Linked DNA regions of Homo sapiens. The gene in region 4 interacts genetically with the main gene of each other region. Each region holds a gene or a part of one and is shown on either strand. Other genes may lie near its edges. The genes, in order: BCL2L12, BNIP3L, BMF, HRK, BOK and BNIP3.

Region 1 (2,742 bases), on a different chromosome or scaffold from region 4:
TTGAGGTAGCACTACTACTCTCACTATTTTATTTTTTGAGACAGGGTCCCACTCTGTCACCCACACTGGAGTACAGTGGCGCAATCATAGCTCACCACAGCCTTGAACTCCTGGGCTCAAGTGATCCTCCCGGCTCCTCTGCCTCCTGAGTAGCTGGGAGTAAACGTGTGAGCTACCATGCTTTGCTAATTATTATTAATTTTAAAAATTTTTATTTATTTATTTTTTGAGACAGAGCCCCGCTCTTGTTGCCCAGGCTGGAGTGCAGTGGTGCAATCTCGGCTCACTACAACCTCTGCCTCCCAGGTTCAAGCAATTCTCTTGCCTCAGCCTCCCTAGCTGGGATTACAGGCATGCCGGGCTAATTTTGTATTTTTAGTAGAGACTGAATGTCACCATGGTCAGGCTGGTCTCAAACTCCTGACCTCAAGTGATCCACCCACCTCAGTCTCCCAAAGTGCTGGGATTACAGGTGTGAGCCACCGCACCAGGTTTTTATTATATTATTTTGTTGAGACACAGTCTCACTCTGTCGCCCAGGCTGGAGTGCAGTGGCATGATCTCAGCTCACTGCAATCTCTGCCTCCCAGGTTCAAGCGATTCTCATGCCTCAGTCTCCTCGGTAGCTGGGATTACAGGCACCTGCCACCGCGCCCGGCTAATTTATGTATTTTTTTTAGTAGACACAGGGTTTCACCACGTTGGCCAGCTGGTCTCAAACTCCTGACCTCAGGTGATCCACCTGCCTCGGCCTCCCAAAGTGCTGGGATTACAGGTGTGAGCCACCGCACCCGACCCTGGCTAGTTATTTTCAATTTTTGTAGAGATGGGGTCTTACTATGTTGTCCAGGCTGGTCTTGAACTCCTGGCCTCAAATAATTCTCCTGCCTTGGCCTCCAAAAGTGCTGGGATTACAGGCATGAGCTACCCCGTCCGGCCTCTCCCTGAGTAACCTCAGTCACTGGTTTCACGCTCACAGTATTAGCGTACCCAGTCGTTGACGCCAGGCATAGTGTCTGCACTCATCGCTGCAGTCCTGGCATACAGCAAGGGCTCAACAGAACGAACGCAGTGGAGCTGGGAGAATACCTGAGGTCTGAGAGGAACCTAAGAAGTCCCCGCCCCTCCTCTATCACATGACAGTTAGGTAAAGTGAGGCCCGGAGAGAGAGGCTTCAGCGGCTCACCCAGCCCCCGTGGGCCTGGATCCAGGGCGTGAAGCTGTGCACGTGCTCCACGCTGAGTCCGGCCAGGGTGCCCCCCAGCCCGGCCACGCGCCGGCTCAGCTCCATGGCTAGGGCCAGGCGGGCCAGGGGCTCCGGGGAAGGAGGCGGGGGCCCGGGGCATGCTCGGCTTGGGCGAGAGCTGTCATCCCGGCTACAGAACAGCTCCACCAGGCGGGCGAAAGAGTCGGAGGACAGGCGGACCAGCTTGCTGCGCAGGGCGGGGTCCGAGGCCAGCTGTAGGGTGGAAGAGGCAGGGTCCGCGTCAGCAGCGCCCCCGGGGCCAGCCAATAGAGGGCCGGGAGGCGTGGCTTCCCGGTTCAGGATCGTTCTAGATGCTAAGGTTCTAGGCCACCCCTCATCCATATTAGCCAATCAAGCCAGACTCCAGGGTCTCTGCCAAACTACCCCCGGGATAGTGGCCTGGAACGTGAGTCCCTAAGCCATGCCAGGCCCTTGCCTCAACAGCCAATCAGGGCCAATCTCTACTGTAACTGAGTTAATCTAGCCATGCCCCTGGTGACCTTTCCCAGGGGCCAACCTAGTGTCTACAACAATCTTGCCCTCTACCATTCAATTAATATTAAAGGACGATGTACCTTGTCCAAGCTCCGAAGCCAATCAGATTCCAGGACACAGCCACAAGCCACACCTCCTCTGGTAGTACATTTTCCCCTACATTCTAAGCCAGGTCCCTTCTATGCTCAGTAAGATTTTAGCCACTCCCCCCACCCCCACATTCATTCACTTACTTCCCCAGCTTGGCCAGTCTCTTGTGGATAATGTTTCTGATGGCCACACCCTCTGCATTTAGGCCATGCCCCTCTAAACAATCAATTAAAACAACTAATTTACGGTACAGTACTACCCTAACCATACCCCTGTCATTCAACTATTCTTTTTTTTTTTTTTTTTTAAAGACAGAGTCTCACTCTGTCACCCAGGCTGGAGTGCAGTGGCGCAATCTTGGCTCACTGCAACCTCCACCTCCTGGGCTCAAGCGATTCTCCTGCCTCAGCCTTCTGAGTAGCTGGGATTACAGAAGCGCACCACCACACCTGTCCGATTTTTGTATTTTTAGTAGAGATGGGGTTTCACCATGTTGGCCAGGCTGGTCTCGAACTCCTGACCTCAAGTCATCCACCCAACTCGGCCTCCCAAAGTGCTGGGATTACAGGCGTGAGCCACCACACCCGGCCTCAACCCTTCATTGAAACCTTGTCCCAGCCTCTTTCCACCTGACCATCCAAAGAAAATACAGATCCAGCTTCTGATCCCAGTGCCCCACCATTCCGCAACTCCTGTCCTTGCCAAGGAGTGGGACAGATGCCCATCACCTTCTGGTTAATGACTTCTGCCTCCTCCTCCAGCAGGGCCACCAGCCTCCGCAGTATGGCTTCCTTCTCTGTCGATGGGGGACCCTGTAATTCTGGAGGCAGAAGAGAATTTGGCTGGGGGCAGAACCCTGACTATCCTCCCACCGCCATCCTTCTCTGGGGCTCCTCTGTGCCTCACCTGGG
Region 2 (3,500 bases), on a different chromosome or scaffold from region 4:
CAATTCTGTGAAGAAAGTCATTGGTAGCTTGATGGGGATGGCACTGAATCTGTAAATTATCTTGGGCAGTATGGCCATTTTCACGATATTGATTCTTCCTACCCATGAGCATGGAATGTTCTTCCATTTCTTTGTATCCTCTTTTATTTCCTTGAGCAGTGGTTTGTAGTTCTCCTTGAAGAGGTCCTTCACATCCCTTGTAAGTTGGATTCCTAGGTATTTTATTCTCTTTGAAGCAATTGTGAATGGGAGTTCACTCATGATTTGGCTGTTTGTCTCTTGTTGGTGTATAGGAATGCTTGTGATTTTTGTACATTGATTTTGTATCCTGAGACTTTGCTGAAGTTGCTTATCAGCTTAAGGAGATTTTGGGCTGAGAAAATGGGGTTTTCTAGATAAACAATCATGTCATCTGCAAACAGGGACAATTTGACTTCCTCTTTTCCTAATTGAATACCCTTTATTTCCTTCTCCTGCCTGATTGCCCTGGCCAGAACTTCCAACACTATGTTGAATAGGAGCGGTGAGAGAGGGCATCCCTGTCTTGTGCCAGTTTTCAAAGGGAATGCTTCCAGTTTTTGCCCATTCAGTATGATATTGGCTGTGGGTTTGTCATAGATAGCTCTTATTATTTTGAAATACGTCCCATCAATACCTAATTTATTGAGAGTTTTTAGCATGAAGGGTTGTTGAATTTTGTCAAAGGCTTTTTCTGCATCTATTGAGATAATCATGTGGTTTTTGTCTTTGGCTCTGTTTATATGCTGGATTACATTTATTGATTTGTGTATATTGAACCAGCCTTGCATCCCAGGGATGAAGCCCACTTGATCATGGTGGATAAGCTTTTTGATGTGCTGCTGGATTCGGTTTGCCAGTATTTTATTGAGGATTTTTGCATCAATGTTCATCAAGGATATTGGTCTAAAATTCTCTTTTTTGGTTGTGTCTCTGCCCGGCTTTGGTATCAGAATGATGCTGGCCTCATAAAATGAGTTACAGAGGATTCCCTCTTTTTCTATTGATTGGAATAGTTTCAGAAGGAATGGTACCAGTTCCTCCTTGTACCTCTGGTAGAATTCGGCTGTGAATCCATCTGGTCCTGGACTCTTCTTGGTTGGTAAACTATTGATTATTGCCACAATTTCAGCTCCTGTTATTGGTCTATTCAGAGATTCAACTTCTTCCTGGTTTAGTCTTGGGAGAGTGTATGTGTCGAGGAATGTATCCATTTCTTCCAGATTTTCTAGTTTATTTGCGTAGAGGTGTTTGTAGTATCATTTTTTGTCTATTTGATTCTTCTCTCTTTTTTTCTTTATTAGTCTTGCTAGCGGTCTATCAATTTTGTTGATCCTTTCAAAAAACCAGCTCCTGGATTCATTGATTTTTTGAAGGGTTTTTTGTGTCTCTATTTCCTTCAGTTCTGCTCTGATTTTAGTTATTTCTTGCCTTCTGCTAGCTTTTGAATGTGTTTGCTCTTGCTTTTCTAGTTCTTTTAATTGTGATGCTAGGGTGTCAATTTTGGATCTTTCCTGCTTTCTCTTGTGGGCATTTAGTGCTATAAATTTCCCTCTACACACTGCTTTGAATGCGTCCCAGAGATTCTGGTATGTTGTGTCTTTGTTCTCGTTGGTTTCAAAGAACATCTTTATTTCTGCCTTCATTTCGTTATGTACCCAGTAGTCATTCAGGAGCAGGTTGTTCAGTTTCCATGTAGTTGAGCGGCTTTGAGTGAGATTCTTAATCCTGAGTTCTAGTTTGATTGCACTGTGGTCTGAGAGATAGTTTGTTATAATTTCTGTTCTTTTACATTTGCTGAGGAGAGCTTTACTTCCAACTATGTGGTCAATTTTGGAATAGGTGTGGTGTGGTGCTGAAAAAAATGTATATTCTGTTGATTTGGGGTGGAGAGTTCTGTAGACGTCTATTAGGTCTGCTTGGTGCAGAGCTGAGTTCAATTCCTGGGTATCCTTGTTGACTTTCTGTCTTGTTGATCTGTCTAATATTGACAGTGGGGTGTTAAAGTCTCCCATTATTAATGTGTGGGAGTCTAAGTCTCTTTGTAGGTCACTCAGGACTTGCTTTATGAATCTGGGTGCTCCTGTATTGGGTGCATATATATTTAGGATAGTTAGCTCCTCTTGTTGAATTGATCCCTTTACCATTATGTAATGGCCTTCTTTGTCTCTTTTGATCTTTGTTGGTTTAAAGTCTGTTTTATCAGAGACTAGGATTGCAACCCCTGCCTTTTTTTGTTTTCCATTTGCTTGGTAGATCTTCCTCCATCCTTTTATTTTGAGCCTATGTGTGTCTCTGCACGTGAGATGGGTTTCCTGAATACAGCACACTGATGGGTCTTGACTCTTTATCCAATTTGCCAGTCTGTGTCTTTTAATTGCAGAATTTAGTCCACTTACATTTAAAGTTAATATTGTTATGTGTGAATTTGATCCTGTCATTATGATGTTAGCTGGTGATTTTGCTCGTTAGTTGATGCAGTTTCTTCCTAGTCTCGATGGTCTTTACATTTTGGCATGATTTTGCAGCAGCTGGTACCGGTTGTTCCTTTCCATGTTTAGCGCTTCCTTCAGGAGCTCTTTTAGGGCAGGCCTGGTGGTGACAAAATCGGTCAGCATTTGCTTGTCTGTAAAGTATTTTATTTCTCCTTCACTTATGAAGCTTAGTTTGGCTGGATATGAAATTCTGGGTTGAAAATTCTTTTCTTTAAGAATGTTGAATATTGGCCCCCACTCTCTTCTGGCTTGTAGGGTTTCTGCCAAGAGATCCGCTGTTAGTCTGATGGGCTTCCCTTTGAGGGTAACCCGACCTTTCTCTCTGGCTGCCCTTAACATTTTTTCCTTCATTTCAACTTTGGTGAATCTGACAATTATGTGTCTTGGAGTTGCTCTTCTCGAGGAGTATCTTTGTGGCGTTCTCTGTATTTCCTGAATCTGAACGTTGGCCTGCCTTGCTAGATTGGGGAAGTTCTCCTGGATAATATCCTGCAGAGTGTTTTCCAACTTGGTTCCATTCTCCGCATCACTTTCAGGTACACCAATCAGACGTAGATTTGGTCTTTTCACATAGTCCCATATTTCTTGGAGGCTTTGCTCATTTCTTTTTATTCTTTTTTCTCTAAACTTCCCTTCTTGCTTCATTTCATTCATTTCATCTTCCATTGCTGATACCCTTTCTTCCAGTTGATCGCATCGGCTCCTGAGGCTTCTGCATTCTTCACGTAGTTCTCGAGCCTTGGTTTTCAGCTCCATCAGCTCCTTTAAGCACTTCTCTGTATTGGTTATTCTAGTTATACATTCTTCTAAATTTTTTTCAGTTTTCAACTTCTTTGCCTTTGGTTTGAATGTCCTCCCGTAGCTCACTCTAATTTGATCGTCTGAAGCCTTCTTCTCTCAGCTCGTCAAAATCATTCTCCATCCAGCTTTGTTCCGTTGCTGGTGAGGAACTGCGTTCCTTTGGAGGAGGAGAGGCGCTCTGTGTTT
Region 3 (2,245 bases), on a different chromosome or scaffold from region 4:
TGTTAATCCACAAAGAAATGCAAGCCAGGAAGTCCCCCTACAACTAGCTTGCCTCCTGAGGGGCTACCCTGATAGAAAGGAGGGGTGGGGTAGTGTGTGCGGGAGGGGCTGCCGGGGTCCTTTCCCTCACTGGGTCCCAGTGGCAGACAGGCCCTTTTGACACATTCCCTTTAATCCTGCAAGGCCGGCACAGTCGTATTTCACACGTGGAAGAACTGAAGGCTCAGAGAGGTGACATAACTTGCCCAAGATCATTCAGCTGGAGGAGGAGGGAACCGGGTCCAAAACCTGCATCTTTCCCCCTCACAGGGCCTCTGCTGTGCTGCCTATCGCGTGGTGGTCGGAATCACTCTTCTCAACTCCAAGAGGGGAAAGGAAATCACGGCGAAAGCTGAGCGCCTTCAGGTCACTCAAGCTGGCAGCTGAGAAAGCTAGAAGGCTTTAATTTCCTAACTGATCTCCTTGCATTTTTACCACACCTTGAAAAATAAAAGACCAGATTTGCTTTAAATGATTTTATTAAAAATTGTACCAATTGATGGGGGGAAAGATATACACACATACACACATATGCATGTGAAGAACATAAACACATAAAGCCAAAGGCTCTGTACAGTTTTTTAAAAAATGGGGCCCCTTTCTTCTTCCTCTCTCCCAGAGGCAGAGTGCCCAGACCCCAGGGCAGCTACCCTGGGGATGAACAAAATGCTACATTCTCACTGGGTCTCCTCGATAGCCCCTGTGGATCCAGGGATGGGGTAGAAGGCTAGCAATGCTCCCAGAGCAGGGAGGGGCACTGGCCACCTGCACAGAGAGAGGGGGCAGTGGGGCTCTGAGCACCTTTAGCTGGGAGGCTGGCTGGGCACCTATGAGCTCAGCTTTTTCCGCTATCCCCTCAAGACTCAAAAGTCCCCACCAGCCCTCAGGCTGCCTAAGGGTGACAGGTGAGCCCCTTCCTGCTAGGGTGTCTGGCCAGGATGGCCTGCTTCCAAGAGTCCTCACCTTCACACACAGAGCTGTTTCCAGCCCAGGCCAGCACTGATTTGCAGAAGGCCTGCAGAGCCATGGTGACCAAAGTCTTCCCGCTTCTGCCACGTCCCTTCTGCCTACCCCACCTCCCCATCAAGTCCCTCAAAAAGAAGTGCTCACTGGGGTAGCATGCTCCTTGCTGTCCAGGACAGTCACCGTGGCTCCACAGCACTCTTCCTGGGAGGCCCTGGCTGAACCATCCCGAATAACCCCCAGGCAGGGGCCACCTGCCGATGGGGCTGGGCTGCCAGGAGCAGTGAGACAGGTCAGCTGGGCCCCTCTGGGTCCTTCAAACAAGCCTGCCACATAGCTTTGGACACAGACCTACTCCCCTGGGGGCTGAGGGAGGTCACTGGGAGGTGATCTTTTTCCACCTCGGATTGAGCAAGAGAAGGCTGCCAGTGGCCCAGACTTTGAAACAGGCCAGGCAGAGGCCAGGCTGAGTCCTCCACCCTCATTGCAGGAGTCCAGCGTCTGGCCTGGGGACTTCCCTCACCAGATCTGTTGACCAACTTCTAGAAACCCCTGCTTTGGGGTTGTGAATTAGAAGGGCTGTTTTGACCCTGAATATCAGGCTTCCCTTCCTCCCAGGCATTTCTTTCCCGAGGAGGAAGGTTTCCAGTCCCTCTCCCAACCCCCACCCTCAGCAAGCCACAAAGCCTCCACCGTCTTCAGCTGGTTACAGGTCAGGATCCAGGTCAGACTCTCCCTCCCTCTAAATCTGATTCTCCACCCCTCGCTAGAGACAGCCAGGCTCCTGGGGGTGGGGGATGGAGTCTGAGGGGGTGGAGGTCGGGGGGGAGGGGCAGGTCTCCTGAGGCTAGACTTGAGGAATGTTTAGGCCAACTCACCAGGCAGAGGAGGAAGGGGCCAGTTTAGATCACTAAGCCAATTAAAAACAACCAGCCAGAAAGAACCTTTCTCCTTCCTGACAGCTACTCTGCCAGCTACCTCCTGGGTTTTGTTGGTGGGGAAGAAGGGAGAGGGAAACGTGAGGGGTGTAAATTTTGCCCTGGCTCACTTAAGACAGTGAGTGAGTTCCTGGCTTTGCATAAGATGGAGACAGTGCAGTCAGACCACCTTCCACCTGCCCCAGGCTTGATGTTGAGGTGGGTTTGTCAAAGTCTGGGCTCAGTTCTCAGGCCACAGGGCACCCAGCCTGGGCCTGGCAAGGTCTCTGAAGCTGATGGCCTTGCCCCAGCACCAAGATCTAAAT
Region 4 (3,500 bases):
TTTCTTTTTTTATTTTTTATTTTTTTGTAACAGAGTCTCACTCATTCTGTCGCCCAGGCTAGAGTACAGTGGCGCGATCTCGGCTCACTGCAACCTCCGCCTCCTGGGTTCATGCAATTCTCCTGCCTCAGCCTCCCAAGTAGCTGGGACTACAGGCACACACCATCATGCCTGGCTAATTTTTGTATTTTTAGTGGAGATGGGGTTTCACCACATTGGCCAGGCAGGTCTCGAACTCCTGACCTCAAGTGATCCACCCGCCTCAGCCTCTCAAAATGCTGGGATTACAGGTGTGAGCCAGCATACCCGGCTGATGTTGCATAGTTTCTGATTCATTTAACACAGCACATAGTTATTGTACACCTACTATGAGACAAGCAAGTTGCCAGGGACTAGGGACACTGTGGGTTAGCTTTCTATTCCCGTGAAATCCTATCACAGGGACACTAGTGAGGACTACCAAGAAACGGAAGCCCCCTCCCCACCTCTCGTTATCTGCCTGTCTAAAAGGCTGACTTTTCAAAAACTCTAGAGTTATGATTGCCAAATCCAGCCAGCCCACATCTGGGGGTATATTTAATTATCCCCGGGTGTGGCTCTTTTCCATCCACAGCTCAGTCACTTGTACTCTGGCCTCTCACTATGCGAGCGGATGACTCCAGACAGAGACCATGTGGCAGGAAGGCTGCCTGGTTCTGCACATCTGGCCCCTTCCCGGGGGGTTCCTCCCCAACAGCTGTCCTCCTCGGGCTCCCTCGCCAAACAGAAGGCCAAGCTTTCAAGCTCTAAAAGTAATTCTGGCAGGGGTGCTGCGAGCTGGGAGGGAGGCCTGCGGGATGCGCCTCCAGGTTTAACCACTTAATCCCCAAAGTACCTGCCAAGAACCAGTTAGCATGTCTGGCTGGTGGGCCAGGCTGTCATTAATTCATTAAAGCAGGCTCCCGCTGGCCCATTATCTTCCTTGCCACTGACCACGTCGCCTTATGGGCCTGCGGAGTCCCCCTCTCTCCCCTTCCCCTGCTCCCAAGGCAGGATTCTACCCAGCCCTGGCCCCGACTCCCAGGCAGATTCCTCGGCTCCATTCTCTCTCCCTCCCTGCCCCCTCCCCAGGCACGCTTCTCCCTCCCTCCCTCCCACGCCTCCGCCAGCCAGCACTCACCATAAAGCGTCTTTTGTTCCCTCTCTCCTGTATCTTTGAGTATTGACTGGTTAAATCATACCCATCCTCCTCCAGGCCTCCCCAGCCTCAGAGGAGCCTCCCCTGGGGCTCTGGAAGAAAGGGAATTTCACTTGTACAGGAATTCACTGTGCACCAACCCGGTCTGCTTACTGCCCCTATCTCCTCTTCCCCCGCAAGTCATGGGGTGGGGGGCGCTGTGTGCCCTCAAAGACAGAAGCTGCAGTTCCACTGGGGATCACTTAGGTGGATGCTCTCTGCCTCGGCTTCCCCTTTGAATTAAAAGGAATGACACTGACCATTTCATGACATCCTCTGTTGAGTGAAGTTAAGAGACAGACACTGCACTGGACTTTTTTGAGACAAGAGTCTCACTTTGTCGCCTAGGCTGGAGTGCAATAGTGCGATCTCAGCTTACTGCAACCTCTGCCTCTGGGACTCAAGTGATCCTCCCACCTCAGCCTCCTGAGTACCTGAGACTACAGGTGCACACCACCATGCCCAGCTAATTTTTTTTTTTTTTTTTTGGTACAGACAAGGTTTCACCATGTTGCCCAGGCTGGTCTTGAACTCCTGGGCTCAAGTGATCCGCCCACCTTGGCCTCCCAAAGAACTGGGATTACAGGACTGAACCACTGGCCCGGCCTGCACTGGACACTTTAAATGAATGTTCTCTTATCATTCTCCCAATAACCCTGGAAGGATACAGCTCCAGTTTACAGATAAAGGTGCAGAGGTAATGGTTCTTTCTCAAGGTCACGCTGTCAGCAAATGGCTGGACACTTAAGAGTCTCTTAACCATTATTCTCTCCTGACCCTTCTGGCACTGACTTCCCGGGAGGGCAGGTAGGAGTGGTGTGGAATGGCCAGCAATAATAATGGTAAAATGTTGACTACCTTGGGAAAGAATGATAGTAAATGCACAATAATAATCATGATGGCTCACATGTATATCCACTGTTCTAGAGCTTTCCGTGTATGAATTCATTTAACCCCCTTAATAACGTGCCTATGCACTAAGTCTGGCTGGTGGGCCCCCATTTTTTGCCCCCATTTTACATATGGGAAAACTTAGTCTTGGGTTTTTGTTTCTGTTTGTTATTTTTTTAAAGGATGACTTCTGAGAAAAGTATTGCTGGTTCGCAGTAGAGACTCAAAACAAGTATGCTGGATATATGTATGTGTATATACACATATATGTTTTAAATTATTATTGAGATGGAGTCTCGCTCTGTCGCCCAGGCTGGAGTGCAGTGGTGTGATCTCAGCTCTTCTTGGCTGACTGTAACCTCCGCCTCCCAGGTTCAAGCGATTCTCCTGCCTCAGCCTCCCGAGTAGCTGGGATTACAGGTGTGCACCACCACGCTCAGCTAATTTTTGTATTTTTAGTAGAGATGGGGTTTCACCATGTTGGCCATGCTGGTCTCAAACTCCTGACCTCAGGTGATCCACCTGCCTTGGCCTCCCAAAGTGCTGGAATTACAGGCGTGAGCCAACCTGCCTGGCCTGTATGTTGAAAATATTGATTCTGCATATAGCGGAGCACACCCTTTAAACCTATGGGAATTGAAAGTGGTAGTTCCCACCCTATATGGCTGGCACAGGCCTCCCTCAAACACCTAAGGTACAGCTGTGAACATTCCCCTTTTTCTTTTAGGGTAGGGAAGGTGGAGAGCACCCCATATCCAGCATAGAACGCAACAGACTGTCTTCCTCCGGTGATTTTTCTTTCCCCTTTACTTAACTTACCAGAGCTGGGAAAAAATGAGTTTCCCCAAATTAAATCAAAAGCACAAGAAAGGCCGGAGCGGCTGGTATTCTGAGGTCAGATGTAGGCTGCAGGGAGAGAACTTGATCAGGGCCAGTGCAGGGAGCCCGAGCACTGAGAACCCGGCCTGGGAGCGCAGGAAGGCGGGTGGTGAGCAATTCTACGGGTGTCCCGAGGGTATGAGGGGCGGTGCTGCTGGGAAGCCGAGCGGGGCATCCTGAGGTCAGGGCGCCAGAGGCTGCAGAACCCTGGAGGGTGTGGCTGCAGGGGACGCCCGGGCGGGACAAGGCAGGTAGGAGAAGAACCCAGAGGTGTGGGAAGAGGGTGTCTCCGAGTCAGGGCGCAGCACGGAAGTAACTCTGGGGTAGAAGGCGAGGGCGGGGCGGGGGAAATAAACTCCACAGAGACAATAACCTGCTGCTGCCCCCCAACACCGACTCAAAACAGCGAAACTCCTGGCCGCCGCCCTCCCCTGCAGCGCAGGCCCCAGTTACCCAACTCCTCCCCTGCGCTCCGGCGCAGAGCGGCGCAATCTGCCCGCCCCGCCCGCAGCCT
Region 5 (4,296 bases), on a different chromosome or scaffold from region 4:
CTGGGCCGCTGTCCTGGGCCACCCGCACTGCCACGCTCCCACCTGGGCTGGCTGGGCCCCTGTCCTGGGCCACCCGCACTGCCACGCTCCCACCTGGGCTGGCTGGGCCGCTGTCCTGGGCCACCCTCACTGCCACGCTCCCACCTGGGCTCTTGCTGCCAAGGGGATGTGCTTGGAGGTGGCACTGCATCAGCCCTGCCCCTGGCAGCCGAGGATGGCCCCTACAGGCCCACCGCCCCAGTGCTGCCTGTGGCACCCTTGGCAGCAGCAGCGCACAGGCACGGGGCAGATGGTGCCGAGAATGCCACAGGGCCCTGGGATTGGGAGTCCGCAGCCCGGCCAGTTCTCCAGCCAAAGCAAACAGGGTAATGCTGCTGACCGGACCATCCCAGCTGATAAAGGCTGCTCTGTATCTCATTAATTAAGATCTGGAAGCAGAGCAGAGCCCATGAGAGGCTGGCTGGGGGCGGGGGACGACATGGAAATTCCCAGGACTGACCCGGCAGCTCCCAAACACAGATCTCCGGGGCTGCTGCAGGCTGGCCCCAGACTGAAGGTGGGGACACAACCCGGGCTTCTTCCTGTCTGCACTGCCCAAGGGCAGGGAGACAGCGCTGGCCTCAAGGGACTGACCCTGAGCAGCCGTGAGGGCAGATGCAGGTCTGAGCTGTGTCCCTCTGGGGTCCCCCTAGACATCTGGGACTTCTTCCCAGCCATTCCAGGGGTCTGGCATCATCTTTTCAGAAGGCCACTAAAAGGATCCCCTAGGGTCATTCTCAGAGCCCGACTAGAGGCAGCAGCAGGCGGCGGATCTCATGGAGCCCCACCAACCCCCTAGCTCCCACCCAGAGACCTCTCCCTCCTTCTGAACTTCTCAGATGGGACTCCACCTCCTCCTGGAGGCTCTGTGCTGGTCCCCATGGATTCTGTCTGCACCCCACACACACTCCTGGGCAGGCCAGGTCTACACAGCTTTGCTCTCTGGGCCCAGCCCACCACGTAAGGGCAGGGGCCACCTAGAGCCCATGCCAGCGCCAGCCTGAGAGGAGGCAGCGTGTCCCCTCACGGGGTCGTGCCCTCCGACTCCAACCCCCTGCCTGGAGAGCCACCGATTCAGTTTCACCTATGCTGTCACCTCCCCTTCCCGGGCTCAGCCACAGGCGCCCCATGTGCCCTCTTCGGGCATCACATAAACATTCCCAGGTGACGGCCACAGCCCAGCTGTGGTGAGGGGACTGGACAGTCACAGTGGGGCTGGTCCCTCCCTCTTGGGTCCAGACCTTGGAGACGGTGGGGGCAGCCAGTGGACCGTGTGTGACCCCAGAACCGAGCACCCCCAGATGTCCTCACAGCACCAACGAATACTGAGGTTTTGGCTACCCAGCCCGGTGGGCGCAGTTTCCAATGGGGGGGCCTCGGAGGCCTCGGAATCCAGAGGGCAGCGGGCGGGATCTCGGCCAGTAACAGCAAGAATCTGTTTTCCAAAATAAACATCGGGACACGTGCTCCTACAAAGGGTTTCTGTGCCCAGCTGAGAACAAGGGTCACTGTGGAAGCTTAGCCACCCACTAATAGATTATTCTTTCTGGAGCTTTCTATTGTTTATGGCCAGCATGACTGAAATCTGGGCTGAGCAGGCAGCTGATGGGGGGGCCTGTGGCGTGGGAGGCCTGAGAGGGCAGATCCGGGAGCACCCGCCTGGGTGGCCCTGTCCCGAGCGCCTGGCCGTCCCAGGCAGGGGGTGGGCGCCCCTGGGCCGGACCCCCATCTCGGCCTCGGAGGGAGGCTGCGGCCCAGCAGGGGAGGAGGCGCAGCTGGGGATCCCACCAGGGCGCACTCACCCAGGCGCAGCAGCACCGCGCACACCTCAGCCAGGCGTCCCGGGACCGGCGCGGCACGCTCGGGCGCGCTCCAGGAGAGGCCGGCGCGCAGCAGCCGCGCGTGCACGTACTCCCGGCCCAGCGCCTTGGCCTGGGCCACCAGCTCCTTGTCTGTGGGCGAGCGGTCAAAGGCGTCCATGATCTCGGCGGCGAAGACCGAGGAGCGCCGCAGCACCTCCATGGCGGCGACGCGGGTGGGGGGCGCCGCACCTGCGGGCACAAGCGCTCAGCCGGGTGGAGGGAGGCGGCGCGGGGAACGGGGCGCGCGGGGCGCCGGGCTGGGCGTGGCCCTCGGGAAGGGCCGTAGCCGGCGCCGGGTCCGCTCTCGTTTTTTGTGCCCCAAATCTTTAAAAACCCAGCGCCACCTTCTTTCAGAGCCCGAATTCAGCTACAGACATTCCCCGAGGCTGCCAGGGACCGGTGGGGCCGCGGGGAGACGGCGGTTTGCTCCGGGGCCGCCGGGCCCGCCCTCGAAGACGAGTGCGTGGGCGGCGGGGGCGGAGGGCACAGCCCAGCGCGTCCCCCACGGCGACTGCCAGGACCCGGCCCTCCCCGCCCCGGCCCGGGGCCGCCCACCTCCGCCGCTGGCGTCCTGCGCGCGTGTCCCCGGCCTCGCCGTTCCCGTGGCACCCCGGGCACCCCGGCACGGACGCCACGCCCGCCGCGCTCACCTCTCCCGCCGCATGGCGCGGGCGCCGGGGTGGAGTTCTGGCTTCAGGATCTGCTCGCCGCCGACGACGACCTCGACCCTTCCATTCAGACCCGCGAGGACGCGCGCCCCGCCCCGGCGCCCGCCCCGTCCACGCCCGAGCCGGGAGCGCCAGGTCCACGGGGCTTCCCGCGCTCTTGGGGGGCTCCTGCCGCGGCGTCGGGGGCCTGGGCAGCGAGGTGGGCAGCGCGCGACTCCCAGCTGGCGAGAGGCTGGGCTTGGGGCTTGGCCTTCTAAGGGAAAGGCAACCCTGGGGGCGGAGTCGGGGAGACGCTTTCCGAGCTTCCCCGCTTAAGGAGGACCGAGCGAGTTCCCTGGATGCGCCCGGAGAAGGCGACCAGGCCGGAGCGGCCCCCGCAAGGCAGAGCAGTGGGGACCTAGAGCCAGCCCCAGCCGCCTGGGTGTTCCCCGGGGTCCATTTGAAAATTGGGTTGTCTTCTTCGTTCGTAGAGGTTCTTTCCAGAGTCTGGAGACGTGTTCTTGGTCCGGACGCATGCCCTTTGTATTGTAGATGGATTATTGGATTCGCATTTATTGAAGTTATTGCAAATATCTTCCTCTATTTTGTGGTTTACTTTTGCTTTGGATGAACAGGAGTTACTCTTAGTGATGTCCAATTTATCAATATTTTCTTTATGGTTAGTACCTTTTTATTGGGATATCCTCCTGTATTTCCTTTTAGAAGCTTGTTTTAGGGCTCATATTTAGATCTATGATTGATTACATATTAATTATTGTGAATGGTGTGGTACGGGGCTAGAGCTCATTTTTTTTCGTGTAGATATCCAATTGACCTGGCATCATTTATTGAAAAGCATCATTTTTTTTCCACCGAATTGGAGGAGTCCCCAACATCTCAACATAAATCAGCTGAAGAGTGTGTGTGTGTGTGTGTGTGTGTCTCGGAACTCTATCCCACTGGTTTATTTCTTTATCCTTGAATCAACCTCACACAGTTTGAACAATAGGATTAACCAACTTGGCCTAATTCACGTGTGTACAACACTATAAAATACTTATTCTTCCCATGTGCACATAGGATGTTTATCGAAATAGACCATATCATGGACCTTATACAAGTCTCAGCAAATCTCAACGGATTGAAATCTTACAGTGTGTCCTCTCTGAATTAAAAGTCAATAACAGAAAAATTACTGGAAAATCTGCAAATGCTTGGAAATTACATGTCACACTTCTAAATAATCAATGGGTCAATAATCACAGTGGAAGATTAAAATATGTTGACAAGAACAGTGAAAAATAAGACATATCAAATGCTGTACAGTGCAACTAAAACACTGCTTAGAGGAAATTTGATAGCTTTAGAAGAAGGATTGAAAATTAGGCCAGGTGAAATGACTCAGACCTGTAATCCCAGCATTTTGGGAGGCCTAGGTGGGCAGATCACCTGAGCTCAGGAGTTTGAGACCAGCCGGGTCAAAATGGTGAAAACCCCGTCTCTACTAGAGATACAAAAAATGAGTTGGGTGTGGTGGCAGGTGTCTGTAATCCCAGCTACTAAGGAGGCTGAGGCAGGAGAATTGCTTGAACCTGGGAGGCGAAGGTTGCAGTGAGCAGAGATCATCCCACCTGCACTCCAGCCTGGACAACAGAGTGTGATTCCATCTCAAAAAAAAAAAAAAAAAAGGAAAAAGAAAAATAAAATTACTGCTCTAAGCTTCCACTCAAGAAGCTAGAAAAGAACAA
Region 6 (3,500 bases), on a different chromosome or scaffold from region 4:
ATAAGTTTCCCTGTCTTTTGTGGCCTGCACTTTCCTCCCACTGCACTCCATCCTCCATACGCTACCAGAGGAAGCTCCTACCAGATTTGCTTTAAATAAATAAACCTATGACACAAAGTAGAGAGATTATCTGGGGCCCAGAAATAGACGTGTGCCTATATGCACGCTTGATTTCTGACACAGGAAGCAGCCAGCGCAGAGTGAGGCGGGAGCTGTCTGCAGTAAATGGGGCATCCGTCTCACATCAATGGGAAAATTAATCCATGTAGATTTTGGATCTAAATGTGACTGTCATAACAGTAGAGCTGTGTGAAAATAATAGAATAGAATATCTCAGCTCAGGAAGGGATTGCTGCATTTGACTGAATTAAAATCAAGAACTTCTGTACATCAGAAGACATCAGAAGTGAAAAGAACAAGCTACCGAGGGAAAGTTACTTGCAACATATTTAAATGCAGAAAAACATATATCTAGAATACAGAATTATCCCAGAATTGCACTTTTAGCAGTAAGGGAACGGGAGCAGCGTTCCAGCCTCAGTTTCTATTTATAATGGTGACATGGAAAAAATACTGCTGGATGCCCACAAATAAGAGAAAGACAGATAATAGAAAAGAATAAGAGATTCGAAGAACCAGTTCAAAAAAGATGCTATCCAGATGGCTAGCAAACTTGTAAAACCGTCTTCAACCTCGTTAGAAATTATATAAATGCAAAGTAAGCCACACGATGCAAGTCATAGAGGCTGGGCATGGTGGCTCACGCCTGTAATCCCAGCACACTGGGAAGCTGAGGTGAGAGGACTGCTTGGGCCCAGAAGTTCGAGACTAGCCTGGGCAATATAGCGAGACCCCATCTCCTAAAAAAAATAGCCAGGAGTAGTGGTGCATGCCTGTAGTTCCAGTTATTCCGGAGGTGTCAGCTAGAGGATGGCCTGAACCCAGGAGTTTGAGATTATAGTGAGCCTTCATCGTGCCACTGCACCCCAGCCTGGGTGACAAAGCGAGACTCCGTCTCGAAAAGAAACAAAAAATAGAGCTTAAACCTTTTAAAGAAAACTTCAAATCCCTTAAGCTTATGTTGACATTAGTGTTGTTGTTGTTTTTTTTAAAGACCTCTTTTTCCAAATAATAGCCTTTTTCTTATAAAAGCTCACTGCAAGGAAGTATTCTAATTGGATTCTGTTGACTCAGCAGAGTTATTGGACATTGGCTTGGTATAAAGGGACTGCAAGAGCTGGACAGATACATGGTCTCAGCCCCAGGGGGCTTCCTTCCTGTACCCAGGGAGTGTGTGCGTGGACAGTCACTGCCATGAGAGTGGGCAGAGGGATGTCTTCAAGTCGGGGTTGAGGGATGGTTCCTGGTGTGGCACCATTGCTACCTCTTGGAAATGGAAGGGCAGGCTGGTTAGATATCAAGAGCAGATTCCAGAGTGGGTAGAGAATTCCATCTGCGCCCCTTTTTTTGTCCCCATCAGGCTCCTGGGTAGAACTGCACTTCAGCAATAATGGGAACGGGGGCAGCGTTCCAGCCTCGGTTTCTATTTATAATGGAGACATGGAAAAAATACTGCTGGACGCACAGCATGAGTCTGGACGGAGTAGCTCCAAGAGCTCTCACTGTGACAGGTAGGCGCGCATCAACAAGTGTATGTGTTACAGTGCCGATGTCTTCAGTGGGTGACAGTCACAGCTGGAAGTGCCCGTGTCACCTCTAGGACAGTGGGCTGCTGTTCGCCTCGGGCCGCGTTCTGGACTGGCTCCTGCTGCAGTCCGTCCTTATATAGGAGCCTCGCCCTCTTTGGGGATGCAGTGACCTGGGACTTAGTCTGTGGGGAGCCATGTTCAAGTCATCAGTAGGCAGCGGAACAGCCACAAACCCCACTCTGAGAAACGCACTCACGCGCCTCAGCGGGGCTGTGGTCGCAGGAGGAGCGGTCCCTGGTTAGCAGTACTTCTGAGTGACTCCAAGGTAGAGTGGCCGACAGTGGTCAAAGGTCGCGTGCCCTTGAGAGCTGTGCAACAGACCCAGACCGTGAAGGCGGCAGGTGACAAAGCCAGCTGCTTGCCAGTTGCCCCTGCGTCTTCTCTGGAAGACTGGCTAGCTCACTCCTGTCGTGCTCAGCCAAAAGGGCTGAGGAAGAGTTTGGCTCTGGCAGGTGCTGGGTGGAAGGGAAGACGCGTACGCTGACTGGCTAGAGCCCCTCATCACGGAGGCGGTTCACTGCCTTTGGGGTTTGAGCTTCTAATGATAGAATGTTCACATGATGTTCTGTTTTTCCCATTCTATTCACATCGCCAAGCCCACCTCGCTCGCAGACACCACAAGATACCAACAGAGCTTCTGAAACAGATACCCATAGCATTGGAGAGAAAAACAGCTCACAGGTAAGCTGGAAGGAGAATGTGCAGTTGTAAAAGTATTTGTGATCTGTTTGTACAGGAAACGGTTTTAAATGTAATTGAGCACCTCAGAGAAAAGTCGGGCTTTAAGGGTGTTTCCTGCTTTAAAAAAAACAAAAAAGCGAAACAAAAAAACCAAGAAACTGTGGGTGGGAACATCCACAAGCACATGGGCTGGACACTCAGCTGAGCGGGGGAGGCGCCGAGTGGGACAGGCAGCGGGGGCCTCCTGTCCCTCCCTGCCTGCCATCAGGGATACACCGGAAAGGAGGAAGGGCTCCCTGGTGGCTGCAGCCTAGAGAGGAGGGAGGGACCATTGGAAGGGGTGGCAGTGAGCCAGCTACTGGCTGGTCTTTCCTCGTGGTTGCTGGTTGGACAGTGAGTGGGTTTTAATATTTGCATGCTGTGTGGGACTCAGGAGTTACCCACGGGGCCATCTAAGGCCATGTGGCCACTGTGGCTGTGACTCTGAGGTGTCTTCCTCATTAGACACTCACTACCTGCCGGAAATTACACCCTGTGCCTTTCCTAGCATTAGTCCTGAGCTAACTGGTGCCGGAGCAGTGTAGCATTAGCGGCTGATCAGCCTGATAATTTAGTGTAAGATCACTTTTTCTTCTTTTTTAAAAAAGTTTTTTTTGTAGAGACGGGGTCTCCCTGTGTTGCCCAGGGTGGTCTTGAACTCCAGGGCTCAAGTGATCCTCCCAAAATACTGGGACTATAGGTGTGAGATACTGTGTCCAGCCTAAGATGACTTTTCTGTTAACAGCTATTGAATGGGCTTTACAGAGCGGCCTTCAGCATTGTTGTGAAAGCGGAGTGAGTCTTAGAGGAAAAAGTGTACCTGGGGTTATTGCCTTGGTGTACTATCGTTCTCCCTTCCTACTCCGGCACAGATAGGGTTCGAGGCAGTGATCAGTACTGTCTTGCTCAGTTATATCTGGCAGTGCCTTACCTTGCTGCAGATGAGATGCGCGATGTGTTTTCTTGGGTGTTCGTTGCTGGTGAGAACTTTGACGACGGACTGTGTTCTGTATTTTGGAAGCTCTGTGAGGAAGCATGGCCTTCCAGGCAGGGTTAGTAGCTGACCCTTCC

Evidence for each region.
Region 1: changes in HRK (region 4) and BCL2L12 together harm fitness more than expected from each alone (negative genetic interaction), as found in Homo sapiens cells (one large-scale study listed by BioGRID).
Region 2: changes in HRK (region 4) and BNIP3L together harm fitness more than expected from each alone (negative genetic interaction), as found in Homo sapiens cells (one large-scale study listed by BioGRID).
Region 3: changes in HRK (region 4) and BMF together harm fitness more than expected from each alone (negative genetic interaction), as found in Homo sapiens cells (one large-scale study listed by BioGRID).
Region 5: changes in HRK (region 4) and BOK together harm fitness more than expected from each alone (negative genetic interaction), as found in Homo sapiens cells (one large-scale study listed by BioGRID).
Region 6: changes in HRK (region 4) and BNIP3 together harm fitness more than expected from each alone (negative genetic interaction), as found in Homo sapiens cells (one large-scale study listed by BioGRID).

What each region holds. Positions count from the first base shown.
Region 1 is NC_000019.10:49,668,933-49,671,674, reverse strand, and holds part of BCL2L12 (bcl-2-like protein 12), read right to left. Parts: coding exon 2,738-2,742; intron 2,652-2,737; coding exon 2,560-2,651; coding exon of another isoform or gene 2,511-2,559; intron 1,460-2,510; coding exon 1,187-1,459; intron 1-1,186.
Region 2 is NC_000008.11:26,396,554-26,400,053, reverse strand, and holds part of BNIP3L (BCL2/adenovirus E1B 19 kDa protein-interacting protein 3-like), read right to left. Parts: intron 1-3,500.
Region 3 is NC_000015.10:40,087,390-40,089,634, forward strand, and holds the end of BMF (bcl-2-modifying factor), read right to left. Parts: 3' UTR 501-2,245; downstream 1-500. UniProt on the Homo sapiens protein: May play a role in apoptosis. Isoform 1 seems to be the main initiator.
Region 4 is NC_000012.12:116,875,532-116,879,031, forward strand, and holds part of HRK (activator of apoptosis harakiri), read right to left. Parts: intron 3,014-3,500; exon of another isoform or gene 2,927-3,013; intron 1,270-2,926; exon of another isoform or gene 1,160-1,269; intron 1-1,159. UniProt on the Homo sapiens protein: Promotes apoptosis.
Region 5 is NC_000002.12:241,557,249-241,561,544, reverse strand, and holds the start of BOK (bcl-2-related ovarian killer protein), read right to left. Parts: upstream 2,801-4,296; 5' UTR 2,552-2,800; exon of another isoform or gene 2,402-2,551; intron 2,327-2,401; exon of another isoform or gene 2,091-2,326; 5' UTR 2,062-2,090; coding exon 1,842-2,061; intron 1,475-1,841; exon of another isoform or gene 1,281-1,474; intron 1-1,280.
Region 6 is NC_000010.11:131,971,924-131,975,423, reverse strand, and holds part of BNIP3 (BCL2/adenovirus E1B 19 kDa protein-interacting protein 3), read left to right. Parts: intron 1-1,480; coding exon 1,481-1,631; intron 1,632-2,305; coding exon 2,306-2,390; intron 2,391-3,500. UniProt on the Homo sapiens protein: Apoptosis-inducing protein that can overcome BCL2 suppression. May play a role in repartitioning calcium between the two major intracellular calcium stores in association with BCL2.